5 separate regions of the Homo sapiens genome follow, and regions 2, 3, 4 and 5 are each linked to region 1. The links come from fine-mapping of genetic effects on gene expression. A gene starts in region 1. Each other region holds a variant in brackets. All regions are shown on one strand. Distances are between the middles of the regions. Region 1 holds the start of MAN1C1 (mannosidase alpha class 1C member 1). Region 2 overlaps MAN1C1 (mannosidase alpha class 1C member 1). Region 3 overlaps MAN1C1 (mannosidase alpha class 1C member 1). Region 4 overlaps MAN1C1 (mannosidase alpha class 1C member 1). Region 5 overlaps MAN1C1 (mannosidase alpha class 1C member 1).

What was found. PIP is the estimated chance that this variant, and not a neighbour inherited with it, causes the effect.
Region 2: its variant is fine-mapped to the expression of MAN1C1 in whole blood (INTERVAL, PIP 0.98).
Region 3: its variant is fine-mapped to the expression of MAN1C1 in whole blood (TOPMed, PIP above 0.99).
Region 4: its variant is fine-mapped to the expression of MAN1C1 in sigmoid colon (GTEx, PIP above 0.99). The same link has a PIP of 0.9 or more in esophagus muscle, gastroesophageal junction and tibial artery.
Region 5: its variant is fine-mapped to the expression of MAN1C1 in whole blood (TOPMed, PIP above 0.99).

Annotation. Positions count from the first base shown.
Region 1 is chr1:25,613,869-25,618,969 of GRCh38, reverse strand. MAN1C1 (mannosidase alpha class 1C member 1) reads right to left here and starts at 2,179. Exons shown (of 12, transcript NM_020379.4): 1 at 633-2,179. The coding sequence starts at 1,172. RefSeq lists silencers at 1,954-2,243, 2,264-2,553 and an enhancer at 2,744-2,913.
Region 2 is chr1:25,763,142-25,768,242 of GRCh38, reverse strand. It overlaps MAN1C1 (mannosidase alpha class 1C member 1), which reads right to left. Exons shown (of 12, transcript NM_020379.4): 7 at 4,276-4,369. Among named protein-coding and RNA genes, the nearest start is that of SELENON, 35 kb to the left of the region's middle. The variant G/A (reference allele first, on the strand shown) is at 2,119.
Region 3 is chr1:25,675,317-25,680,417 of GRCh38, reverse strand. The region is part of intron 1 of MAN1C1 (mannosidase alpha class 1C member 1); the gene reads right to left. Among named protein-coding and RNA genes, the nearest start is that of MAN1C1, 61 kb to the right of the region's middle. RefSeq lists an enhancer at 3,975-4,024 and a silencer at 4,105-4,174. The variant T/C (reference allele first, on the strand shown) is at 3,153.
Region 4 is chr1:25,741,956-25,747,056 of GRCh38, reverse strand. It overlaps MAN1C1 (mannosidase alpha class 1C member 1), which reads right to left. Exons shown (of 12, transcript NM_020379.4): 3 at 274-389. Among named protein-coding and RNA genes, the nearest start is that of SELENON, 56 kb to the left of the region's middle. The variant G/A (reference allele first, on the strand shown) is at 2,639.
Region 5 is chr1:25,727,973-25,733,073 of GRCh38, reverse strand. All of the region lies in intron 2 of MAN1C1 (mannosidase alpha class 1C member 1), which reads right to left. Among named protein-coding and RNA genes, the nearest start is that of SELENON, 70 kb to the left of the region's middle. The variant T/C (reference allele first, on the strand shown) is at 2,101.

The DNA.
Region 1 (5,101 bases):
ATCATCTCTTCCTGCATCATATGCAATTATGTACAATTGTGTACAATTGTTCTGAAGCTCAATAAGCTCAATAGAAACAGAATGCACAACATCCTCTGGTTTGTAGGTTGCTTACTAGATTACAAAATATTTGCAGGACACCAAATACCCCCTTAAATCCTGGGTTTTTAGGTAAGCAGGTCCTATAGGGGTTTTGGACTTAAGGTCACACAGTGAAAAAGAATGGGACCAGTGGCTCTGTGTCCACAAATGCAAAAAGAGGGTGCACTAAGGAACCTGAACTCCACTCTCATTAGCAACTCCACAAAGGGAAGGAGTGGAGCTCACTGGGCCTGGGGGTTGGATACGACATACCAGAGTCTGGGAGTGAGGGGGCAGTTGGTCTAGGGGTTCAGCTGCCATCTGTCACGGTGGGGACGATTAACTGACCCGAGTGGTGGGAAACTGTGTAGGGAGGAAAGAAGGTGGGACATTTGGGAGGAAAGGGGAAGGTGCAAAGTGCAGTCTGCAGGGCCAGAAGTAGACCTGGGACCAGGAGTGACTGAGGCAAGGGAAAGGGGTGGGAGCGCCAGAGGGTCTTCTCTCCTTAGAGGGGGCAGTTGGTGGGAGGAGTTTGGGGGCTGAGTCCATACCTCCTTGATTTTCTCCCGCTGGGCTCGCACTTGGCTCTGGGGCTCCTGACTCTCATCGGCCCTCGTTCCCAGGACCGGGTGGCGGAGACGGCTCCGGAATGCGTTGAAGTCAAAGCGGAAAGGGACGCCCTCGTCCCCGGGCCTGGAGGCCGGGATGCTATTGCCCCGGGCCGCCGTGGCCTCCTCGCGGGGTCCAGTGGGGCGGGTGCGCCGCAGCCCCCCTTTCCTGCGGCGGGGACTGGCCCAGCTGCTGGGGTCATCCTCGCCCGGGGCCGGCGCGGCGGGGGCCGGGTTGGGAGGCGGCTCCTGCTCGCGGGCCGGGGCATGGCCGGCGATTTCAGCCACCACTTCCAGACCAGGCTGCTGGGTCCGGGGGGCCAGGAAGAGGCGCTTGAGGCGAGAGGAGTGGGGCAGCAGGAAGAGGGCCCCGAAGCACAGGGTGACCAGGCCCGAGAGGAAGAGGAGGAAGAGGAACTTCTGCGGCAGCCGCAGCCCCCACGGGGAGGCCGGGACGAAGCCGGGCACTTTCCTCATGAGCATCGTGGCCCGGCCGGTGGCTCCAGAAGCCCTCGGAGTCCAGGCACGTGTCTGCGGGGGCGCGGTGAGGGGAGGGCGTCCGGAGCGCCGCCCGGGATGGGGGTCCCTGGGCAGGGTTGCCAACCCTGAGAGTTTCGCCGCTTCGGGGGACTGTCCCCGAAGTTCAGGGAGTTTGGAGCGAGTCCTCCCGCGAGGAGGCGGGGGCGCAGCGGCCTCGGCGGGGCCCGGGCGAGCGGAGCGGCACGGCTTGGGGCCCGGGCCCGCAGCGACCGGCCGCGCGCCGCAGCCTCCCCTCCGGCCGAGCCCTCCCCGCCGCGCCGGGGCCCGCGCCTTCCCGCGCTGCGGCCGCCGGGACCGTCACATGCCGTCCGCGGCGTCCCGGCTGTCCGCGCCGAGGGGCGCCCGCAGGCCCGCACCAAGCCGCCCTCCGCCCCCTAGGCTCCCGCCCGCGCTGGTAGGCGCCCAAAGTTTCAGCTTCAGAAGCAGTTTCCGGAGGGGACCGAGGCGATGGGGGGCTGGCGTGTCAGCGCCGCCCCGAGCGCGCGCACACCCGGCCCGGTCGCGACAGCGCCCGGGCTCGACTATCGGGACACGTCCACAACTTTCTCCGCCGCGGAGAGGGCGCCGGGAGCTGGGAGCCGGAGTGGCCAGGGAGCAGGAGCAGGCACTTCCGAGCCTGCGGGGGCAGGGGGCTTCCCCCGGGCCCCAGACAGCGCAGGGATGCCTGGGTCCGGAGCCGCGGCTGGGCGGCTGCAGATGCGCCCGGGAGCGCGGGCTCCCGCCCCTCGAACTCGGCAGGGCGCGGGGCTCCCACTGGGATCACCTGTTCCCGGCCCCGCCGGCTCCGCGGAGCGCGCAGCCCTGGCCGCGCCTCCCCCGCTGCAGCTGTCTTCCTCGCAGCGGCCGCTCCAGACCGGCCGCTGCCGCCGAGCCTGCGCCCCACACGCGCGCACAGCCACCCGGCCGCCTCCACCGCCGTCCCCGCCGCCGCCGCCGCTCGGGCTTTCACTGCGACAGCGCCCGCCGCCCCGCCTCCTGCCGCCCGCCGGCCACGCCCGCCGGCCACGCCCACGCGCGCGCCCCGCGCCCCCTCCCGCCGCCGCCGCGCCGCAGCCGGCTGAGGGCCGCGCGTCCGGGGGCGGGGCAGAGGCCGAGCGCGGGCGGGAGCGCAGCCCGCTCCAAGCCCCGCCCTCCCCGAAGGGCAGGCGTCGCGCGCACCCCCCATCCAGCGGGCGCCAATGGTCCAGCGGCGCGGGGCAGGCGAGGGCGGGGGCGGAGAGCGCAACGAGGGCATTGGCTGCATCCGAGGGATCCCCGTTGGGCCACAGTCGTCCATTGGTTACTGCCCAGCCTTCGCTGGACCCCAAGCGACAGAGACCACCCCCCAGCCCGCCCGCGAGGCTCGGGTTGGTGGCCCCCGGAAGCGGGCCGGAGACGGTGTTGCTCTGGAGGGGTGTGCCCGTCGCTGGGTGACCTCTCTCGCCCCCGAGTGCCAGCCCGGGGTTGTCAGGGAGCTGGCAGCCCGCGCCCTGGCGGCTGCCCCGGGCTTCTCAGCGCTAACGCCGGGCTGCAGGGGTGCTGCTGGTGGCTGGAGCCAAGCCAGAGAGCTGTGACCGCGGCCGGGTCGGCGGAGGTGATGTTTCCACTGGCCCCCTCGCAGACCACTGGCGTGCCTTCCTTTTCCCACAACCCTAAACGGGGCCAGGGCTCCTGGGTGGAGCACGGAGGGAGGCTGACCGCAGCCTTGAGAAGCAGCGAAAGGAAGAGAGCCCCGGGCGTGTCTACAGAAGACCACACACATAATGTGACGGACGTCTACCTTGATGCCTACGTGTGTTTATATGCACATGTGTGCGTCTGGGCATAGATCTATATGCACACAGAGACTGGCATGTGGGTGTGTACATGCACTCAAACATACACTTAATTTGGGTATGGACACCCAAGTGATTATACCACAGTATGCATAGACATATATGTAAATTAGTACAAACATGGACATGTGCACCCGCATACCCACAGACACTCAGGCAACAGATAACCTCCAAAAACAGCCAGGCATCAACTCCCAGACACGCGTGTCCTCAACCCCAAGGCCCTCACATCTTCCTCCTTGGACTTAGTCTCTGCATCTTCCCTTCCTGTTAAACCTAACCCAGGGTGAAGCAACATTGTGCTGTGTGGGTCTTTCATGCAAAACACTTTATAGAGACAAATAACAGCAGAGGGAGAGACAAATTAAGAGGTTTGTAATAGGCAAGAGGGAAAATATCTACTTTCAGCTGCAATTTAAAATGAAATGCAGTGTTGACGAGACAGAAAATACTGCAGGGAAGCCTTTCCCGACAGAAGAAGCGGGCCAGGCAGGCTCTCGCCTCGTAAATCTTGCTTCTTCCCTGAGGCCTGCTGGGGATGGGCGGCTGGGACTCAGTCATCCTTCTACCTCTGGCCAGACCACTGACAGCAGACCCACCCTCGATGTTTAAATATCCCTGGCATGCAACTTTCTCTCAACTGAAAATGAAAGTGGGTAACAGGTGCAAACATTTTGGTCACTGGAGATGACTAATCCTTCCCAATCCCACAAATATATGCAGCTTAAATATAAAATTCTAATTCAGATATTTCAATCTCTTGTGAGTTTCGTTGGCAGGTTGATGTGGAGCCAGCTGTGCAAATCAGAGATAAGCATGTGACCCATTTGGGTGCAGGAGCCCAGAGACCTGGCCTGGCCTCACCCATGTCTCCAACACCCAAGCATCGCCTCACTGGGTCCCACTGCAGGAAAGGGCAACCTTGTCTTTGGAGAACCAGGCAGGGACCCAGCATTCATTAGAGTCATCATCTGTGTTGTTCCTCATTGAGAGTGTAGGGGAATCACTGTTCAGTCCCCTGTGAAGGTAGGATCCAGAAAGGGAGAAGAGCAGAGCTGAATCTCAGAAGGAAATGTCTGTTTGAACTAGATGCTCACTGTGATGTGACACTCTGACCAAACTCTGGTGTGCTCTGTGAGCCAGGGTGGAAAGTGGGGCTGCAGCAGGACTGACGTGCCTTTCACACTCAGGCTATGAAAACCAGAGGCCCCAGCAGGTAACTCCATTGCAAAGTGATGTGATGTTGGTGATCACACCAAGTTGTTGATACCATCACTTGCTAGGGAGATACCAGTCTCTCTAAAAAGCTCTCTGAAACCCTGGGTGTCCCCTTGCCCCACACCTCTAGCCCCCAGAGACCTCATACATCCCGTGGCTCTTCTCCCACTGACTTTTAAAGACTATTGGTGTGTTGTCACAAAGCAGATGCTCAGTTCTTCACCACGGCTTCCTCACTTCTCTAACTCTCTAACTTCTCTAACTGCCCCGGGTCTTAACCACAATGCCTTCCACATGGGCACTGTGTTTGCTCAGTAAATGAATGAAGAAATGAGTGAGTAGATGCCCATTTCACAGATGTAGAAACTGAAGCTCGGGGAATGGAAGAACAGTGAACTAACATTTTCTATGTGCCAAATACATATTGTCTTATTTACTTTTCAGAATAATCTTTGTGGTAGATAATTATTAATAGCCCCATTTTACAGATAAGAATACCAAGGCTTAGAGAGACTTGGGATGAGTTATAAGTATCTATATTAATCAGAGTTCTCCAGAACAGAACCAATAGGCTATATATAGATATATAAAAAGAGATTTATTATGAGGGATTGACTTCTGTGATTATGGAAGGCTGAGAAGTTCCACAATCTGCCATCTGCAATCTGGAGGTCTAAAAAGCTGGTGGTGTAGTTCCAGTCCAAGCCAGGAGGCCTGAGAACCACAAGAGCCGATAGTGTAAATCCCAGTCTGAGTCTGAAGACCCGAGAACCAGGAGAGCTGATGTCCAAGGGCAGGAGAAGATGGATGTTCCAGCTCAAGCACAGAGCATGGATTTGC
Region 2 (5,101 bases), 150 kb before region 1:
TGTGAGGGGAGTGTGTGTAATGTGTGTATGTGTGAGGGGAGTGTGGATGTATGTGAGGGGACTGTGGGTGTGTGAGGGGAGTGTATGTAGGGGGAGTGTATGTAGTGTGTGTGTGTTAAGGGAGCGTGGATGTATGTGAGGGGTGTGTGGGTCTGTGTGTGGGGGGGAGTGTGTGTGTGTGTGAGGGGAGTGTGGATGTATGTGAGGGGAGTGTGGGTGTGTGGGTCTGTGTGTGTGGGGGAGTGTATGTAATGTGTGTGTGGTGTGTGTGAGGGGAGTGTGGATGTATGTGAGGGGAGTGTGGGTGTGTGGGTCTGTGTGGGGGAGTGTGTAATGTGTGTGTATGAGGGGAGTGTGAATGTATGTGAGGGGAGTGTGTGGGGGGAGTGTATGTAATGTGTGTGTAGTGTGTGTGAGGGGAGTGTGGATGTACGTGAGGGGAGTGTGTAATGCGTGTGTGTTAGGGGAGTGTGGATTATGTGAGGGGAGTGTGGGTGTGTGGGTCTGTGTGTGTGAGGGGAGTGTGTAATGTATGTGTGAGGGGAGTGTGGATGTATGTAAGGAGAGTGTGGCTGTGTGGGTCTGTGTGTGGGGGGAGTGTGTAATGTGTGTGTGTGAGGGGAGTGTGGATGTATGTGAGGGTAGTGTGGTATGTGGGTCTGTGTGTGTGGGTGTGTGTGAGGGGAGTGTGTGTGAGGGGAGTGTGTGTAGGAGTGTATGTAGTATGTAATGTGTGTGTGAGGGAAGTGTGGATGTATGTGAGGGGAGTGTGGGTGTGTGGGTCTGTGTGTATGGTGGAGTGTGTAATGTGTGTGTGTCTGGGAGGGTGGGTGGGGTGGTAGGGGTGTGTGTGTGTGTGTGTGGAGTGTGGACGTATGTGAGGGTAGTGGTGTGTGGGTCTGTGTGTGGGGGGAGTGTGTGAGGGGAGTGTGGGTGTGTGAGGGGAGAGTAGGAGTGTATGTAGTGTGTAATGTGTGTGTGTGAGGGGAGTGTGGATGTGAGGGGAGTGTGGGTGTGTGTGTATGGGGGAGTGTGTAATGTGTGTGTGTCTGGGAGGGTGGGTGGGGTGGTAGGGGTGTGTGTGTGTGTGTACGAGTGTGGTCTTCCCCAACACTGCGAGGCGGGCTGGGAGAAGCACAGGCATAGGAATGAGAAGACATTGTTCTGCATTAGCTCAGGGTGCACCCCTGCCCACTCTGGGCCTTGGTCTCCCCATCTGCAGATGTGTGAAGGGGGCACGAGCTGGTGTCCGTGAGCCCCAGAGCAGAGGCAGGCTCTGCTGCTTCCTGACCGTGCCAATGCGCTCGTCACACCTGGCAGCAGGAGGCTGGGCCACAAGCCTGGAAATCAGCCGATCTGATGCCAGGGAAGCTGCCAGGCTGCAGCTCACACTCCTGTACCTACCAAGGAGGTCTGGACTTGCCACTTCCCTCCCACAGAAGAAAGTGTGGGATTCAGGCAGTGGACAAGTTACTCAGGTGCCGCACCGAGGGGCTGGTGACCCCTCCTCGGCAGCTCTCAGGGGGTTGGCCTCAGGGTGGTCTCATTTGTGTTGGGCACCATCGGGAGCCTGGTGGATTTATCCTGGATGTGAACTCTTAGCAATAGGACGGGTCTTGGGGCTCCCCTGTTACCCCTGAAGCTCGGTTTCCAGGAGGAGTGGGAAGCCAACAAGAGCAGAGGCCTAGGTAACTGAGATGCAGTCCTAACTCCTCCTTCGTTTCTCTAGGCTGCAATTTCTGTGGTTGCAAATGGGCTACGCAGAACCTGCCTGTCCTGCCTTCAGGCTTGTTCTGAAGATTCAAGAAGAGAAAATGATGTGCGTGCACTTAAGCTTATGCAAGGTGGTAATGCTATCAAGTGCTAAAAGAATACGTATGCACCAAAAAAAAAACCAACAAAAAACCACAGGAAACCTGAGATGACCCCGGGCACCAAGGCCAGGGGAGGAGGAAGGCAGACGTTTGGGCGAGCTGGGCATTATAACCCCCTCTGCTCTTTAGCAGGCCGAGGGCTCAGATTTTATTAATAGGAAACAATTTCCCATATGCGACTGACTTTGCCCAGACCTGCAGGCCCTGACTCTGCCTGAGAAGAAAATTATGCTTCCCGGCAGGG[G/A]CTCCCTTATAATTTGCCAAGGTAACTGTTGAGCTAGGAAGCCCACACCCCTTTCAGCCCTTTTCATGGGTTCTGCTGCCTTGCCCTGGAGCAGCTCAGAGGGGTTTATCTCCTTATCCAGTCAGGTCTCGCAATTAAAACCAGCAACTGTTATCGAACTGCCTCTTCCCGTGGCTATAATCTGCAATTCAAGCTTCATTTTCTCCCCGTACTTTTGGATTCGGCAGTGTGTTTTGGTTAAAAATACTCTGCATTTCTCTAAGTGGTTTTTACGGGAGGCCACTTGGGGTGAGGTCGTCCCTGGGGGAAATTCCTGGGTTGAGTTTTCTGGGGGAGGTTCAGGTTGGAAGGAAAGGCCTCAGCTGCTTCGCCACAGTGTCCCCAATGCTGCCTCTCTAGGCCCCACTTGCATTGTTCCCTTTTGGGACAACTTGGACCATCTTTGGCAGATGGAAGTGAAATCTGTTTCCTGCAGCCTTTGACCATTCTTCCTACGCCCCTCCATGGCACACAAAGAATGCATCTCATTCTCTTCTTTCATTTTGCAGGACAGGAAACCAAGGTTCAAAGAGATACAGTGAATTCCCCCCTAAGCCACACAGTCATTAGACTCATACCCACTTTGCCCCTGAGCCCTTGCTGATGTCACAAAAACTGGGTTGGAGGCAGGGGAAAGGGAAGGGGGTCCTTGTTTGCACACAGACAGTGGGGGTGGGGGCTCTGCCAGGTCTTGGGAGGCCCTAGAGGCAGTGCCCACGGAACCTGTCACTGCCAGTTCCAGCTGACCATGACCATGTGACCAGGGCCTGCCTCTGCTTCCCAGAGCTGGGCTTCTCAACAGGCATGCACATTCCAGAGGCCTGGGGGACTTGTCCACACTCTCACACCTAAGCGACCCCAAACCCCATTCTGTTGCAATGGGTAGGGCTGGGGGCTTGTGAATGATGTTCCATGGGTGACTGGCTGTTATCTGGCTGAGAAACAAGTCTCTGAACAGAGACCTTCTGAAAACTCTGGGACTGATTCTTGTAGGTCTAAGATGTATAGATGAATTCATGACGTCTTTTGTTTTTTTTTGGGACGGAGTCTTGCTCTGTCGCCCAGGTTGAAGTGCAGTGGTGCGGTCTTGGCTCACTGCAACCTCCGCCTCCCGGGTTCAAGCGATTCTCCTGCCTCAGCCTCCTGAGTAGCTGGGACTAGAGACACGTGCCACCACACCCAGCTACTTTTTGTATTTTTAGTAGAGACAGGGTTTCGCCATGTTGGCCAGGCTGGTCTAGAACTCCTGACCTCGTGATCCGCCTGCCTCGGCCTCCCGTCAGGTGCTTGGCCTGAATTCATGATTTCTACACTGTTGTATGGTTTTTGTTTGTTTGTTTGTTTGTTTGTTTTTTAAATTAAAGTTGGAGCCAGGCGTGGTGGCTCACGCCTGTAATCCCAGCACTTTGGGAGGCCGAGGCGGTTGGATCATTTGAGGTCAGGAGTTCGAGACCAGCTTGGCCAACATCTCTACTAAACCCCATCTCTACTAAAAATACAAAAAAAGTAGCCAGACATGGTGGCACATGCTTGTAGTCCCAGCTACTCGGGTGGCTGAGTCAGGAGAATCACTTGAACCTGGGAGGCAGAGGTTGCAGTGAGCCGAGATCGTGCCACTGCACTCCGGCCTGGGTGACAGAGTGAGACTCTGTCTCAAAAACAAAAAAACAAAAAAAAATTGAAGTTGGAAGTGGGGAGCCTGATCAAAGAGGCTTGGAAAGGATGCCTGGCCTCTCTTGGAGCCACTTCTAGAATGGATGACTCCACCTGGGACCCTCCCGAGAACCTGGGGTATAATGCAGGAGGCTCCCGCAGCAGCATAAGAGATGGAAGGCTGCGCCATTGATGGGGCCAGAGAAGGTAGGGTTTGGAACGCACAGGGCAGGCCTTCAGTAAACAGCAGCCATCACATCCGGCACTGCAGCAGCAGACAACCACAGGCAAGCCCCCAGGATGCATGGGAAGGCAGGTGGTGTCCAGGAGCACCGAGCGAATGCCTTGCTGGCTGCATGGCTCTGACAGACACATCCTCACTCAGCCCAGGGGCCTGGCAGGGTCTTCCTAGGAAGCCTGGGCAGGAACCCGCTGAATAAGGGGCAGTGGCGTCTCTGTACTCACGTTGCACCCAGTTCCCACTCACTGGGCTGAGGAAGTTGGGGTAGAGGCCAAAGGGCTTTTCGATCTTCCTGAGGACCTTGCGGATGTTCCTGACCTGCCGAGAGACGGACACCAGGTGAGCCTTCATGCTTCCGAAGAAGCCGACTGCACCCAGCCTGCTGAGGATGGGAGGCAGCTGGTTCAGATGCATGGAGGAAACCTTATGAGGAGGCAGGAAGGGAGAGCTGCCCAACGGACTGCAGGCTCCAACCCGGGGATGGTGACGTGGCCTTGCCCTGGTGCCACGTGAAGGGTGTGACAGGGCCTGATCCATAGCCTCTCCACTGACTGCTCTGCCTGGCACCTGGACAGTCTCAACCCCAGAACCACTGCCTGGCCGACTCCTATCCCACCCAACTCTCAACACTTCCTCATTGCTTGCTGCTTTAGGGGTACTTTGAGGGATTCTTTTGGGGAGGGTTTTTTTTTTTTTTTTTTTTTTGAGACAGTCTCACTCTGTCACTCAGGCTGGAGTGCAGTGGCACGATCTTGGCTCACTGCAACCTCTGCCTCCCAGGTTCAAGCAATGTTCGTGCCTCAGCCTCCTGAGTAGCTGAGATTACAGGCCTGTGCCACCACTCCTGGCTAATTTTTGTATTTTTAGTAGAGACAGGGTTTCACCATGTCAGCCAAGCTGGTCTCAAACTCCTGACCTTTTTTTTTGAGACAGTCTCAATCCATCACCCAGGCTGGAGTGCGGTAGCGCAATCTCAGCTCACGGCAACCTCCACCTCCCGGGTTCAAGTGGTTCTCCCGTCTCAGCCTCCTCAGTAGTTAAGACTACAGG
Region 3 (5,101 bases), 61 kb before region 1:
TCTACAATTGATTGTGGTGATTATTCACAATTTGTGAATATATTAAAATGACTGAGGCTGGGCATGGTGGCTCACACGTGTAATCCCAGCACTTTGGGAGGCCCAGGTGGGCGGATCATCTGAGGCCAGGAGTTCAAAACCAGCCTGGCCAACATGGTGAAATCTTGTCTCTACTAAACATACAAAAATTAGCCAGGTGTGGTGGCAGGTGCCTGTAATCCCAGGTACTTAGGAGGCTGAGGCAGGAGAATTTCTTGAACCCGGGAGGCAGAGGTTGTAGTGAGCCGAGATTGCGCCACTGCACTCCAGCCTGAGCCACAGAGCAAGACTCCGTCTCAAAAATGAAATAAAATGACTAAAATTTATACTTTAAAAGTCAGATATTATGGTATATGAATTTTATGGTATGTGAAATATATATATGTGTGTGTGTGTGTGTATATATATATATATATATATATATATATTTTTTTTTTTTTTGAGACAGAGGTCTTGCTGTGTCACCTAGGCCTCTACCCAGAGGTAGGCTCTATCTCAAAAAAAGAAAAAAAAGAAAAAGAAAAATGTCATTCTTTTTGGAAATATACAATGAAGTATTTAAGGGTAGAGGACATTATATTTGCAACTTTCAAATTGGTTCACAAGACAATATGTATGTACATGTGTATACATATATTATACATACAGTGTGCATATATATGATATATATGTAAAGCAAATGAGTGAAAAACAGAGAGAGAAAGCAAACAGGGTAAAATTAATGTTAACGTTTGCGGAATCTGGGTGAAGGTAAACGTAAGATCCTTGCTAGATTTTTGTAACTTTTCCGTAAGTCTGAAATGCCTTTTTTTTTTTTTTTAACTCATTTAGGAAATTTTACTGGAGGCTGTTATTTTCACCCAAATTTATACATTACACAATTCTATTTTCCTTCACTTTTTATAAATTACAACAGAATGTGGCCATTGTCAGTCTCCCTGAAGTTCTTCTTAGCCCCCAGTTCCTCAATGGCCTGGATGGGTCTTCATGTCCGTCTCACCAAGCCTGTTCCCCACGCTGGTCAGAGAAGGAAGAAGTCTGGTGAACAAATTAGGAACTAGCTATTTTGGTTTCTCCTTTTATAATTATATTAGCATGCTCAAAGGAGGTGCCTGTTTTCTTCCTACTCCAAAAAAATTAAAAGGCTCCTTTGGTGGTTCTGAGAATTTTCTACAAGTCTCAGCTCAATTCAGGCTTCAGCCCTCATGCCCGCTTCTCCCACTTCTGGGTCACTCCCTTCTCTTGAACTCAGCTCTGTGCCCCTTCCTTCTCTCTTCTGCATAAATCCTTTCAGGTAATTTTAAAAACAAGGTTCACCTCTCTCTCTCTTGTCTCATCTCTCTCTCTCGTCTTGTTTCTCTCTCTCTCTCTCGTCTCCTCTCTCTCTCTTCTTGTCTCTGTCTCTCTACCTTTTAATGTATCAAAGGCACACAAGCTCGCTGAAGAAAAGCAGAAAAAGAGAAGGAAAACAACTGCCCATTATTTAACAACCACCATTCCCATTTTGGCGTCTTTCTCTGCAGGTACCTTTGTTTTTCCCTCTCATATTGTACCTTTGTTTCTTCCCATAATTATGACATATTCCAATTTTATTACAAAGGCTTTGTAAACATCACTTTTAATAGCTATATAATAGCTTAGAAAGTGGGTTCATCATCATTTACTTCACCTCCTTCCCATATAATTAGACATTTTGGTGATTTCTAGTTTGGGGCTATTGTAAATAATGCCATAGTGAACATCTCTGTGCACATAACATTTTGAATAATTTCCTTAGACCAGAGTTTCTAAGAAGTTGCTAAGAAAAAACTTTTAAAGTTATTAATATGTAACGCCCTTTTAAGAGATTACAGCCAGACAGCATGTTTTGCCCACCACTGTGCAAAACTTGGTGAACAGGAAACTGTTTAACGATTTTGAGACAATACGGTAAAGTAGTTCACTTGGGGAGATAAAACTAACAAAATGAACAATCATCACTTATATTTGTGCAGCTCTTTGCATATTTTATCTCATTTGATTTGGCCAGTTCAGTGGGCTGGACAAGACAGATATTTGTTCCATTTGGAAATAATTATGCAAGGGCTAAAGTAGGAGATGTAAAGTAGTAAATAGGTATTAAAAATTGTGTTTACAAATGTTTCATGATAGGCAAAAATGCTCAGTATATATTATTAGGTGGAAAGGCAGAACACAAAATTACATAGTATGAAATTCACTGGCCTATGTATGAGTGTTTACAAAAAAGACTGAAAGAAAATATACCAAATTCTTAACAGCGGTTATGTCTGATAGAAGTTTAGTGATTTCTATCTTTTTCTTCTTATTGACCTATATTTTCTGAATTTTCTACAGTGAATATCTAGAAAGGTTTTGTGATGTGAAAAATACAGGTTGTTAAAATGAAAAACAAAAAGAAGACATCGTATGGTGCTACCCTTAAGTCAAAAGCAAGTGCCTGGGTGGTCAGCCATGGGGTAGGTCGGACCAAGTTAGGTTTTGATTAAAAAAAAAAAAAAAAAAAAAAAAAAAGGAGGTCTTTACAGCAGGGAGTCAGAGAGAAGGTCACCCAGCAAGAGAAACAACATCAAACAGAAGCACAGATCCAGAACTCCAGAGTCAAAGAGAATTTTAAGACCAGAAACATCATCTATTCTCAAAGCCACATTTTATAAGAATATAGACTCAGAAAGGGAAGGGACTTGCCTCGGCCAGGACACAGACACTAATAGCACAGAGATAACCATGTCTCTAAGAAACATGGGCCAGGGCAGTGCAGTAGCTGACTGGGGAAAGGGCCAGAGCTACAGCAAGAGATACTCAGGACAGGTGCAAGAACATGACAGTCGGAACCAATCAACATGAGAACTATGCACCAAAAGAAACTGTACCCCTGTCCCCACTAGGTTCTAGAAACGCGCAACAGGCAGTCATTGTGTGTGTGTACGTGTGTGTGTGTGTGTGTGTCCCTGCTAGAGATAGAGGGTGGCTCTAGATGGTCTCTGGAAGCCCCTCCCTTCCTGTAGCCTGTGATTTATAGATTCAAAGAGCACCTAACAATAGACCACAAAGCCTTCCCTTCACTCAAGTCTTGCAAAGGTGGAAAACAAAGC[T/C]CCAATGATAGAGAGATACAGGCAGAGCCATCGGAGCTGAATCCCAAGAAATCTCTTCAGTTCTTCCTCAAACAAAAGATGTTCTTGTCTACCTGAACAAATCAAAATGACACGGAATTTTTTAGTGCAAAATATTTACTAGTGTGAGGCAGAACATTATTATTTGGTTTAAGATTTTCTTTCTACCTGTCTCAGAGCTCAAGAGTTCTCTCCTGCAGAAAAGAGACTAGAATCGATCACCCAGGCACAGATGCCCACTCAGCTGAGGACCCCAGAACAATGAGATCAAGAGAGAAAGGATGCATTAGAGGAGGGGAGGACACGTGGGTGCCAGCAGACCACTCCCAGAGTGGAAAACTCCAAAGTTTGTGTTGGACAGTTCTCTGGGGGTACAACTTGGAAGGAAGGGGGTGAGCATTGAATATTGAGACATTCTCCCCCACTTTAAAAAATCACACACATACACACAAGGCTGGCTCTGGCAGTGACCCAGAACCACAGTTGCTACATTCAAAGCTGCCAAGGAAGGAAATGGATTTTCCCAGTCATTAAAGACAAGTGCTCACACCATGACGTGCAGCCTTACTGGCGTCTCCCAGCAGTGACACCTGGCCCCATTTGCAGGGGCCAAGTGGGAAGGGATTTGGTCTCTAACGATCCTGGGATCTAATGACTATGTAGACAGAGAGCTTAGAACATTGGGTTGATTTTTTTCTCCTCTTCCACTTTCAGCACAGTCCAAGGGAAGAGCTGACAGCTTGGCACCTAAAAACTATCCACGTTGGATTTTCTGATCCAGTTCCATTTATTGGGGCAACACAACATGACCTGGTTGGTGACCCCAGTGAGGCTCCTGCAAATACACAGCCCAGGTCTATCGCTCAGAAGCTGGGCACGGGTGGGGTTTGGTTGCCCGGGGAGGTGAAGCGGGGGAGTAGAAGGGGAGATGCTGCCTCCAACCCTCTCAGTTTCGGGTTTACTCAAGCTATTGAAAGGCCAATGTGGGAAATGAGCATATGATACAACTCCCACCCACCTGAGGTCCAGACAGCTCACCCACATCCTGCCCATGGGGTTTCAGGTTTGAGCAGTCTCAGGAATCGCATCCTGTCTGCAGCTGTTTCTAAGGCATCAGGGTCGAGAGTGTGGGCCATACAGGCAGAGAAACTCTCGCTGCTCAAAGTGCTCCAGGGACCAGGAGTAGGGCCACCCAGGGGGCACGTCAGAAACAGAGTACCTCAGTTCCACTCTCCCACCTGCTGAATCTGTAGCAGCAGTTTAACAAGAGCCCCAGGTGATTCAAACGCACATTGAAGCTTGAGAGGCTGCTCTAGGGCTCTGCCACCTTACTGGCTGTGTGGCCTTGAGTGAGTGACTTAACCCCTGTAAGTCTCAGTTTCCTCATCTGTAAAAGGACAGAAATACTTAATCCTTAGAATAACCCTAAGAGTAAATAACAGATGTAAAGTGTTGAGCACAATGGCTCGTATATAATATGTGCTCAATAAAAAGCAGCCATGGCATGGATGTGGTGAAAAGTGAACACTTTTACACTGCTGGTGGGAATATAAGTTAGTACAACCACTATGGAAAACAGTATGGAGATTCCTTAAAGAACTAAAAGTAGAACTATCATTTGATCCAGCAATCCCACACTGGGTAACCACCTCCCCCCCCCCCCGCAAAATAAGTCATTATATGAAAAAGACACTTGCATACACATTTATAGCAGCACAATTTGCAATTGCAAAGATACGAAACCAACCCAAGTGCCCATCGACCAATGAGTGGATAAAGAAAATGTGGCATATATACACCATGGAATACTACTCAGCCATAGAAAGGAATGAAATAATGTCCTTTGCAGCAACTTAGAAGGAGCTGAAGGCTCTTATTCTAAGTGAAGTAACTCAGGATTGGAAAACTAAATATTGTATATTCTCACTTAT
Region 4 (5,101 bases), 130 kb before region 1:
ATGACTGACCTTGCAGGGAGGGGATGGATGGTCGTGGCTGTGTCCCCTCCCCAGGGAAGATGCTAGACTGGGGAGGATGTCCCCACCTCAAGGCTGTCTTAAGGAAGGGACTCAGCACAGACTGCACGGCAGCTCCGGTTCCGAGACTGCTGGGCTGTGCAGCCGTGGGAGAGACCCTCAACATCTCTGGGTCTCAGAGATGACAGGGTGAAGCTGGCTGTTGGGCCTCTTCTGGCCCCCGCCCCCCTCCCCCGCCGAGGGCCTCTGACTCACCACGTTCAGGTGGAAGCTCTCTCCCACCCAGGCCTTGGCCTCCTGGAACTCCTCCTTCAGCTCCATGAGGTAGAGGGTATCGAGGGAGTCAATGACTGTTGCCCCGCTGAGGCCTCCTGCAGGCACAGAGCATTGAGGGTGTGACCCAGGGCCATCTTTCTCTTTTCCCCAACTGGACAAGCCACCGTTCTCAGGGCCCCTCCAATGCCAGCGCAGGCTTGGTGGCAAAGGCTGGCCTCAGGCACCATCCGGGGGACTCCAGTGCCACCATCGAAGGTGACGCCGAGACCCAGAGTCCCCGCCATGGGCTGCTTCCTCCTCAAGGCAGCAAACAGCGGCCAGAGAGACCGAGGGCCCAGGCTGAGCCACTTCCCAGACTCGGTCCACTCTTCTGTTGGTCAGCGGGTCAACTATCAGTGCCAATCAGCCACCCACTTTTCTCTGCTTTGGCATATAAAAATCTTTGTTTGTTTGTTTTTGAGACAGGGTCTTACTCTGTCACCCAGTCTGGAGTGCAATGGTGCGATCTCGGCTCACTCCAACCTCTGCCTCCCAGGTTCAAGCGATTCTCCCACCTCAGCCTCCCAAGTAGCTGGGACCACAGGTGTCCACCACCACGCCCAGATAATTTTTGTATTTTTAGTAGAGATGGGGTTTCACCATGTTGGCCAGGCTGGTCTTGAACTCCTGGCCTCAAGTGATCCACCCACTTCGGCCTCCCAAAGTGCTGGATTACAGGCGTGAGCCGTGAGCCACCTCATCCAGCCTGGCATACAAAAATCTTTTTTTTTTGGAGACAGAATCTTGTTCTGTCGCTCAGACTGGAGTATAATGGTGCTATCTCAGCTCACTGAGACCTTCATCTCCTGGGTTCAAGCGATTCTCGTGCCTCAGCCTCCCAAGTAGCTGGGATTACAGATGCATGCTACCACACTCAGCTAATTTTTGTATTTTTAGTAGAGAGTGGGTTTCACCATGTTGGCCAAGGCTGGTCTCGAATGCCTGGCCTCAAGTGATCTGCCTGCTTTGGTCTCCCAAAGTGCTGGAATTACAGGCGTGAGCCACTGCACCTGGCCCAAAAATCAACCGTGCCAATCCTCTGTCTCTTCAAGATTAGTTGTAGCTAATAGAGGGTGAACTATGGCTCAAATATAAAATAGGATACCATGCAGTCATCCACGCAGGTGAGGTCGACCTGTGCCTATTTACCTGGGGAGACATCCACGGGATCTTTTTCTTTCTTTCTTTCTTTCTTTTTAAGTAAATTGCAAATAAGAAAAAAACACAGTATAATTCTTATTGTACATCAAAGTGTAAGTGTACAGAACTAAGTCTGGTATGACCCACTGACTACCTCTGAGTGCCGGGATTACAGGTGCCTTTTGATTTCTTCAGCTCATGGGTTACTTTCTTATAACCAGAAACTTATTTCCATTAAAAAAAAAAAAGGAAAGAAAATTTGGGCAAAGAAACCAAACAAATACACAAAGTAAAAATTTGCGGCCATTCTCATTCTAGTGCACGAACCAGCTACGAGGCCTGGCCCCTACCACTGGGCATCAGGCACCTGTCCTGGGAGTAAAGGCTGAGATAAGTGCAAAATGATAGTTTTCCATCCCATGAACCAGACAGAAGAGTAATGAGGAAGACACCCTCTGGCACAACCAGAGCCTTTTGCACTCAGTGCAGAAAACTGTGAAGGTGGAGGGGAGGGAGAAAGGGACATGCCTGCTACTATCTGAAAGGCTTCCTGAAAGAGGTGGCGCCTCCCATCAACTCCTTACAACTATGGAGTCATTGCAGGCAGCAGTAGTTTCCTTTAGGGACCAGAGTGTAACCCTAAGAGGAGTAATTGTTCCTTCAGTGTCCTCCCTGCAGAGGCTGAAAACATTGAGAGTCACAGGCTCCACCTTCCGCAGTGGAAACTCTGGAGCCTGTTGAGCCCACTTGAGTCTGCAGCGTGGGCTTTGCGGCACCTCCTGAATTCAGAGTTAGCCTCTAATCTCCTTAATGAGTGCTTCCTAACTGCTCACTTGTGTTGACTGAAGGCAGAGAATCCTTCTGAAATTCACACACTTAACCACCTCTCTAGGCTGGGCAAGGTCTGAAAAAGGATACAGCCTGGAAAAAGAATGGAAGTGAGGGTGAGAGGGAGGGAGAAGTTAGGAGGAAGATGAGGCTGGAGGTCAAAGAATCTATTACCAGAAGGGAGGGCCCGCCAAGGAGGGAGCAGAGGGCTGGAGGCACCCAGCCCTGTGTCCTGGGATGGGCTGGAGGTCGGAGAATCTATTACCAGAAGGGAGTTCGCCAAGGAGGGAGGAGAAGGCTGGAAGGACCCAGCACTGCGTCCTGGGATGGCTTCCCT[G/A]TTTGGGCTGAAGTGAATTTCCAGAATGTCAGCCCCTCCCATGCTTAAGAAGTGGTAGGAAAACACATCCCAAAGCCAAACAGACTTGATCCTTTGCCGGTTCATCCCAGCTGCTTCCCCTGTAGGTGGCAGGGCTGAACAGAGTTCCTGGCCCGTATTCACCCTCTCGAGGTGCTCAAGCAGGGAGGCACTGAGGAGCCCAGGCAGACTGAGCAAAGCAGATCGTGCCCAGCACACAGGGTACAGGCCTGGTGTCCATGCTCCTGGCTGTAGCTCAGGCCCCTTCCTGTTCTATCACAGGACCTCAAACCAGACGTTTGAAGGGCCTGGAAGAATCTGGGGGATCCTGCTGCCCCTACCCCTTCATTGTCATAGATGAAGACCTCAGAGAGGGGATGGGACACACTCAAGATTAGACCAAGGGGGGACTGGCCCAGCCCCAGGCCAAGTGGAATGTGTTTTCCACGCATCAGGCATTGCAGGGCCGCTCAATTCTCTGTGAAAACAGTTGCAGATCTGATTGCTCACCCCACCCCACCCACTCTGATCAGTTACGGATCAAGAGAGGCCCAGGCCGTATGTCCTTCAAGGCCAGGGGAGAGGCAGCCGCAGTGTCTGATTTCTGAATCCTGCCTTGAGCTCCCTGGTGTTTTCACCCCATGCGCCCTTCTTCCTCTAGATCAGGCTGGGAGGGCAGCCAGGACTCCTCGTGACCAGCTCTGCCCCGTGACGTCCCTGGGGACGCTCTATGAGGCCAGCTGAGAAAGCAGCTTGCTAAGAGATTTGTTGGCAAGTTCCTGCCCCTGCTCTCAGGCTCCTGAATCCTTCTCTTGGTTGGTCTCCCACCCCCATTCCCACCTGGCACATGGCTGAGCTGCAGTCCAGCAAGGCACTTACTGGAAAGCCTTTCATTCCAGTCCAGAGGCTACTCAGCGGTCAGGCTGGGCAGGAGAGAAGGCCCTATCCTGAATTCAACCCTATTTGCACCTGCAGCCACCCTGGGGCAGCTCCCCAGGAGGAAAGACACACTCCCTGTTCAGTAAACAGACCATGATTTATACACAAAGAGCCAGCTTGGACGCTTCCCTAGGGCTGTGGCTGGGGCGGGCTCCATGTTGGTCCACTTTCCTGTTCCAGTTCTGAAGCCATGGGGTTCACCCCTTCCTGCTAGTGCAGAAGGCAGTGAGGTGTCTTAGAAATAATACAGGCCCAGAAATCAGCAGCCCCGCGTTCAAATGCCGCTATGAGCCAGCAACACATCTGCTCTAAGCATCAAAGTTCTCATCTATAAAATGAGGTTAAGACCACTGGACCAGGGCACTGGGGAGCCACTGCAGGTTCCTGAGCCAGGATAAATACATCACATACACACCTGGCCTAGATACATCTGATAAATACAACCTATATGCTTGGCACAGACTAAGTGCTTGATAAATCAGTTCATTGAACCGATTGTTCATCAGTTCTGGGGTCCCTTAGTTCACCTTGAAATAGCAGCCTGGCCAGGGAGTGAGGAAGGGCAACGAGGTCAGGGAGACCCTCTTGATCCTTTCCTTTGGGAGGGTTCGGACCTTTGGCTACTGAATAAAGCCTTTGCAAGGCAACCTCACACATAGCTAAGAGGCTGGCTTTGGTGTCAGGGAGATGTTCAAATCCTGGCCTCTTATACCCTAGCTGTGCAATAGGGCAAGCCATTCTACCTCTTTGTGCCTCGTTTCCCTCATCTGCAAAATGGCGGTGACACTAGGACCTGCCTCATAAGGCTCCTGGGAGGGTTAAATGGGGTAGGTTGATGGACAAGGGCTGGCATGATAGTGAGTACATGTGGCCCTCCTTGCCCCTACTGGCACTGGGCAGCCCCTCCACAAAAATCTTCTTGGGTCAGTGAGGCCTTGGGGTGCAACTACATTCCCGGCCCTCTCTCTCACCCTGCAGGGCAACGTGAGCGTGAGATTGCAGCTTGCAAAAACCCTTGGCCCAACTTAAAGGAAAACCGCCCCACAGGTCCCATCTGTATCTGCTGCCGAGGCCATCACTACCTGATCTGGTTGTGTAGTTGCCTCCAAAAGGGTCCTCCTATCTCCAAGACCCCTTCCCTTTACCTCTTATTCACTCTAAAGCCAGATCCAACTTGGGTCTCTCCCCAAGCTCAGGAACTGCCAATGGTTCCTCAGTACCCATGTAGGAAGGGGTGCAAGCTCCTGCTTCCATACCTTGGCAAGTGTGGTCTTCTCTGCCAAGAAATCTTCTCTGTGCATCTTGGCATGTTCAACACTAACATGTTCTTCAAGGTCTACCTCCCAGGGGCAGCCTGAACTGGTTCCACTAGCTAACCTCTTCTTGCCCTGAGAGTGCCCACAGCACTTTCTTGGGCACCCACCACTACCTCCCTGCACTGTGGGGCTTTGCCTCCCTAACTAGACTGTGAGCCCCTTGAGGTCAAGGGTCCCCACTGCCTCTCTC
Region 5 (5,101 bases), 110 kb before region 1:
TGCCTCACCTCAGCTCCTGGGGGAGCCTCCAGCTGTCTTTGACAGTGCCAGAGCCTCCCAGGCCCACGGACACAGGGTTGCAGTGCTGTCTTGGGTATACATTGTGGCCACACAGAGCTATGCATTGATCATGGCAAACACGGCCTGTGGACCACAGCCAAGAGGTGCAGATGCATGGCTCTGATAACAAGATTAATGATGATTATTGGAAAGGAGAAAAGAAAGGAAATCAAAGAGGTCCCATTCACCCCTGTAAAACATTAAGAGATAGCAGAGGCAGTGCCAGGAGAGCCTGGTAGGGAGCTGAGCCCCAGGGAGGGTCTTTGTAGTTGCTGGGATAGCTTAGCTGCAGGCAGTGGGCCAGCAGAATGGGTTGAGTCCTGGAAACCCACGCTTGGATCCACCACTTACTAGCTGCCTCAGTTTCCTCATCCTCCACAGTGGGAGCAAGACCTCCACCTTGCAAACCATCCTGAGGGCTAGAGATCATGCAAAATGCCGGACGCCGCAGACGCAAACCTGCGTGAAGGCCGACACCATGTTGCTGAGCGCACCACAGACAGCACCTCTTTTAAGTCTCACAACACCTGAGGAGGAGGGTGCAATTCCTGCCCCTGTTTTACAGATGGGGAAACTGAGGCTTAGAGAATCATCTAAACCTCCCAGGGCTGATGAACAGGGAGCCAGGACTCAACTCTGGCCATCTTCCCTGGTTGCTCTGCCCTTCACTGCTGTGCCATTCCATTCCTGCACAACTTGGGAGACTGGGCCTGGTTTGGAGGGTCCAAGAAGGTCCCAGGGAAGTACTCTTGGCTTTGAGACCACAGGCTACCTCCTGAAGGCCTGTGGCTTAGCCTGACCCTATCTCCCACCTCTGGGCTGGAGCAAGGCCCCCCTGCAGCAGGCACTACCTTGCAGAGAGCTGCCGCCTCTCCCTAGGAGCCTGGGCACCCTCTGCAGGAGCCCCCCCAGATGCCCTCGAGGGATGGCTCTTCTTACCTACACCATTCTGGGCCCCACCACTGATCCCCTGGCCCAGGCTCACTCATAGGAGGGTCTGAGTTGGTCTTTTTCTCTGACAGATGGTAGCCCTGGAAGGAAGAGATCCTGCCAGATGCATCTTTGGAGCCACCAAAGAGCCTAGTGTGATGCCAGGTGCATGGTAGGTTTGGAGTAAATATATAGTAAATTAACCCTGACATAGAACAGAGCAGGAGCCGAGAGCACACATGACCACAGGCCAGACAGGTGGCCTTCTCTCCATCAGGCCATGACGAATCCATCTGGTTTACTCCCAGCATCAGTAAAGAGGAGACCAGCCCACACTCCTATAGACCAAGGGCCTCCCTTTTCTTTGGTCCACAGGCCCCTTCCAGAACCTCACAGAAGCCACTCAGGCTTCCCCTTGCCAGACTTACCTGTGTTAGAGAGGGAGGAAGGAGCCTGAGACAGATTCCTACAAAGGACAGAGTAGGGCAGAAACTTTGGAATCAGGTAGACTTAGAATAAAATCATAATTGTCCTATTACTAGCTGTGTGACTTCTGGTCAGCTACCTTATCTCATGAGCCTCAACATCCTCCTCTGTGAAATGCAGATAATGTAGACGACTGAAGCCACTGATGCTAGTGGATACACAATGAGGTTTGTTTTCCTTAAATGTAAATGGACTACAGAGGATACCTATGAGTTGCCTCTCATTTGATGATGATGATGATGATGATGATGATGATGATGACGATGATGATGATTATTGTTATTTTTTGAGTCAGGGTCTCACTCTGTTGTCCAAGCTGCAGTGCAGTGGCACGATCACAGCTCACTGCAGCCTTGACTTCCCTGGGCTCACGTGATCCTCCCACCTCAGCCTCCTGAGTAGCTGGACTACATGAGCATGCCACCACGCCTGGCTAATTTTTTTGTACAGACGGGGTTTCGCCATGTTGCCCAGGCTGGTCTCAAACTCCTGGGCTCAGGCGGTCTGTCCACCTCGACCTCCCAAAGTGCTGGGATTACAGGCATGAGCCACCAGGCCTGGCCTCATTTGATTTTTTTAAAGCAGCAGCGATTGTGGGGGAAGCACAGGCTTGTGGTCAAACCA[T/C]GTGCCTTGGCTCTGTGGCTTACCAGCCTGTGACCACAGCCAAATGACTTAACCTCTCTGAGCCAGCAGCGAGTCTGCATCTGTCCAAGGTACTAGCAATAACCCTGTCGCAGATGTGGGTGGCCTGAATCAGGTGAAGGGTGCAGGACTCCATGAACAGAGTCTGGCAGGAGAGTGAAAAGGAGGAGGAAGTGCCCACACAGGGAGAACCCCCTCCCCGCTTGCCCTGTCCACCCACCCACAGCCAAGCCAGGCCTCATCCAGTCGTGACAGCCCTGAGCATGCTTCTGGGGCAAGAACTGCCTCTGTTTCAGACCTCAGTGCCCAAACAATTCACAAATGCAGCAAACGTGCCACGGCCCAGGAGACAGCTCTCCGCTTCAGAGAAAACACACAGTTCAATTTCCTAAAGATCGAAGCCCAGGAGCATTTCAAGGCTTTCCTGGCGAGAGCAGTTCTCAGAACTCAGGAGGCACCACCCTCATGTGACTGAACAATTAAAGCCCCTAGTATTTGTCATTCTCAGCTAAGGTTTTCGAGGATGGCTGAGAAAACTAAAAAAAAAAAAAAATCTGATTTTGGCAGTGTGGCTTTCAGAAATATATGGTAATCCATTTTTGTCAATTCACAGAAGGCACAGCTCAAATCATTAAAAAGCCATCGTGCTTAATCATGCGTGGAGAAGGCCAGTCTCTGCCTCTGAGATCATTTTAAAACGGTTTCAGGGTAACTGTCAAAAACTGACAGGGAAGCAGGGAGGGGATTATGACAGACCATAATCTGAGGAATTTCTCTTTCTGGTTCTCAAAGGGTAAGGGATTTATCTGAGAGGAAATCACCACCCAGACCTTGGCCTTGGTGCTGGTGGGGACAGTGGTGAGGAAGATTCTAGGATGCATCAGGCCTGACCTCTGTCCTTACGGAGGCTGCAGCTGCTTTCTCAGAAAGACAGTAAGCAATTTCCCAGCAAAACAGCAAGTAAATGAATGATTATGAAGCCTTGTGACAGGTGCTAAGAATAGGTGGAAGTTTATGCAGCTGTTAAGGCCTGGCTGTGAGCCACGGGGACCTGGGTTTGGAATTTGACTTTGCCACTCTGCAGCTGTGTGACCTCACACACACTCCTCACAGACCTGGGTTCCTCATCTAGAAAATGGGATGCCTGGCCAGGCACGGGGGCTCATGCCTGTAATCCCAACACTTTGGGAGACCGAGGTGGGCAGATCATGAGGTCAAGAGATGGAGACTATCCTGGCCAACATGGTGACACCCTGTCTCTATTAAAAATATAAAAATTAGCTGGGCGTGGTGGTGGGCGCCTGTAGTCCCAGCTACTCGGGAGGCTGAGGCAGGAGAATTGCTTGAACCCTGGAGGCAGAGGTTGCAGTGAGCCGAGATCATGCCATTGCACTCCAGCCTGGGTGACAGAACTAGATCACATCATTGCACTCCAGCCTGGGCAACAGAGCGAGACACCATCTCAAAAAAAAAAAAAAGAAGAAAAAGAAAATGGGACGCCTGCCTTGTAGGCTTGGGAGCTCAATGAGTTAATTCCTGGGAAGCTTTTATTGCAGTGCCTGGTACACAGTAAGCTCTCAATAAATGCTGGCCGAGTGGCTAACTCTGCTCAGGAAGCCTCATGGACCTGTGATGGATCGGGAAGGATGAGCAGGAACCCGCAGGGTGGAGAGCAACAGGGGGGACATTCCAGGCAGAGAGCACAGCATGTGCAAAGGCCCTGAGGTAGGAAGCTGGTCAGGGAGGAGCATAGGTTTCGGGGGAGGGAATAAGGGGAGCAATGTGGCCAGTCAGCTGGAGCCATCCTGGGAAAGACTTCAAATGCAGGCCAAGGGGTTTGGTCTCTATGTTGAGGGCCATGAGGAGCCACAGAGGGGTGTCTCAGGGCTGGGCCATGAGCAAACCATGTACATTAGAAGCTAACGAAGGGGCAAGAGGCTGCCGAGAAGGCTGGAACAGCATTTGGAGATCCAGAATCCTTCTGGGGTCAGAGCCACACAGCGAGTCTTCTTCCAGGTCTCAGACCACACTGGGCACTTGTTGACGCCTAGGTGACCAAACTCTCACTAGGGGTCCCCAGCCTTTATTTGAGGGTAATATCCTCTACTGTGCCAGCAACGATTCTGCACCAGTTCCCCTTCCTTAGACAGAGCCGTTGAAGGGAAATAGCCGCCCAGGCAGGCACTGCGTTTCCCAGCCTTTCTGCATCTAGGTGGAGCCGCAGGACCCAATGGGGTGTGGGCATAGGCTCCATACACCACTTTGAGGCCTGGCCCATAAAAACCATTCATGGATATTCCAAGGCCGAGGCAATCTTGGGTGTTACAACCTGAAGATGATGGCGCCTCCATCACCCTGAGTGCCTGAGTCATCAGAGGGAACAGAGCTCTCCCCACCATCAATATGACTTTACATGAGCAAGAAAGAAATGTCTGTTGTCTCCAAGCACTGAAGTCTCTGGGTTTATCTGTCACAGCAGCCAGCATTACCCTAAACAGACCCACCAGGCAGAATGACCTTGAGCACTTCACCTCCCTGAGCCTGTTTCTCTCAAACAGATTGTTGTGAGTGCCTAATACGATGACAAGTGTGAGTGCTTTGCAAGCAGCGAGGAACCACAGAGATCCGTCTGTCATGGGGTTACTGGCTTTGGTCCCTCTGAGAACCCGAGGTTGCAGAGGGGAGGGGACTCCGGCCAGTCCCTGCTGAGGCAGGGGAGTGCAGCAGCTAAGGCCCGGAGAAGCTCGCAGCAGGGGCTCAAGATCCACCAGCAGGTCCTGGCCTAGGCTGGGGACTCTCACTCCAGGCTTTAGTTCAGCCCTTTGAGAGATGCTCCTCAAATAGCTGAGCCGCCCAAAGGGAGGAGGCTGGGGCCTGGCTTCCATCTCCTGGAAGCTGCCCCGGGAAGCAGTCCTCCCAGCCTCTCTCTGATAACTTGTTCCAACCTCTCACAACTCATTAACAGGAAACTGCATTCCCTGCC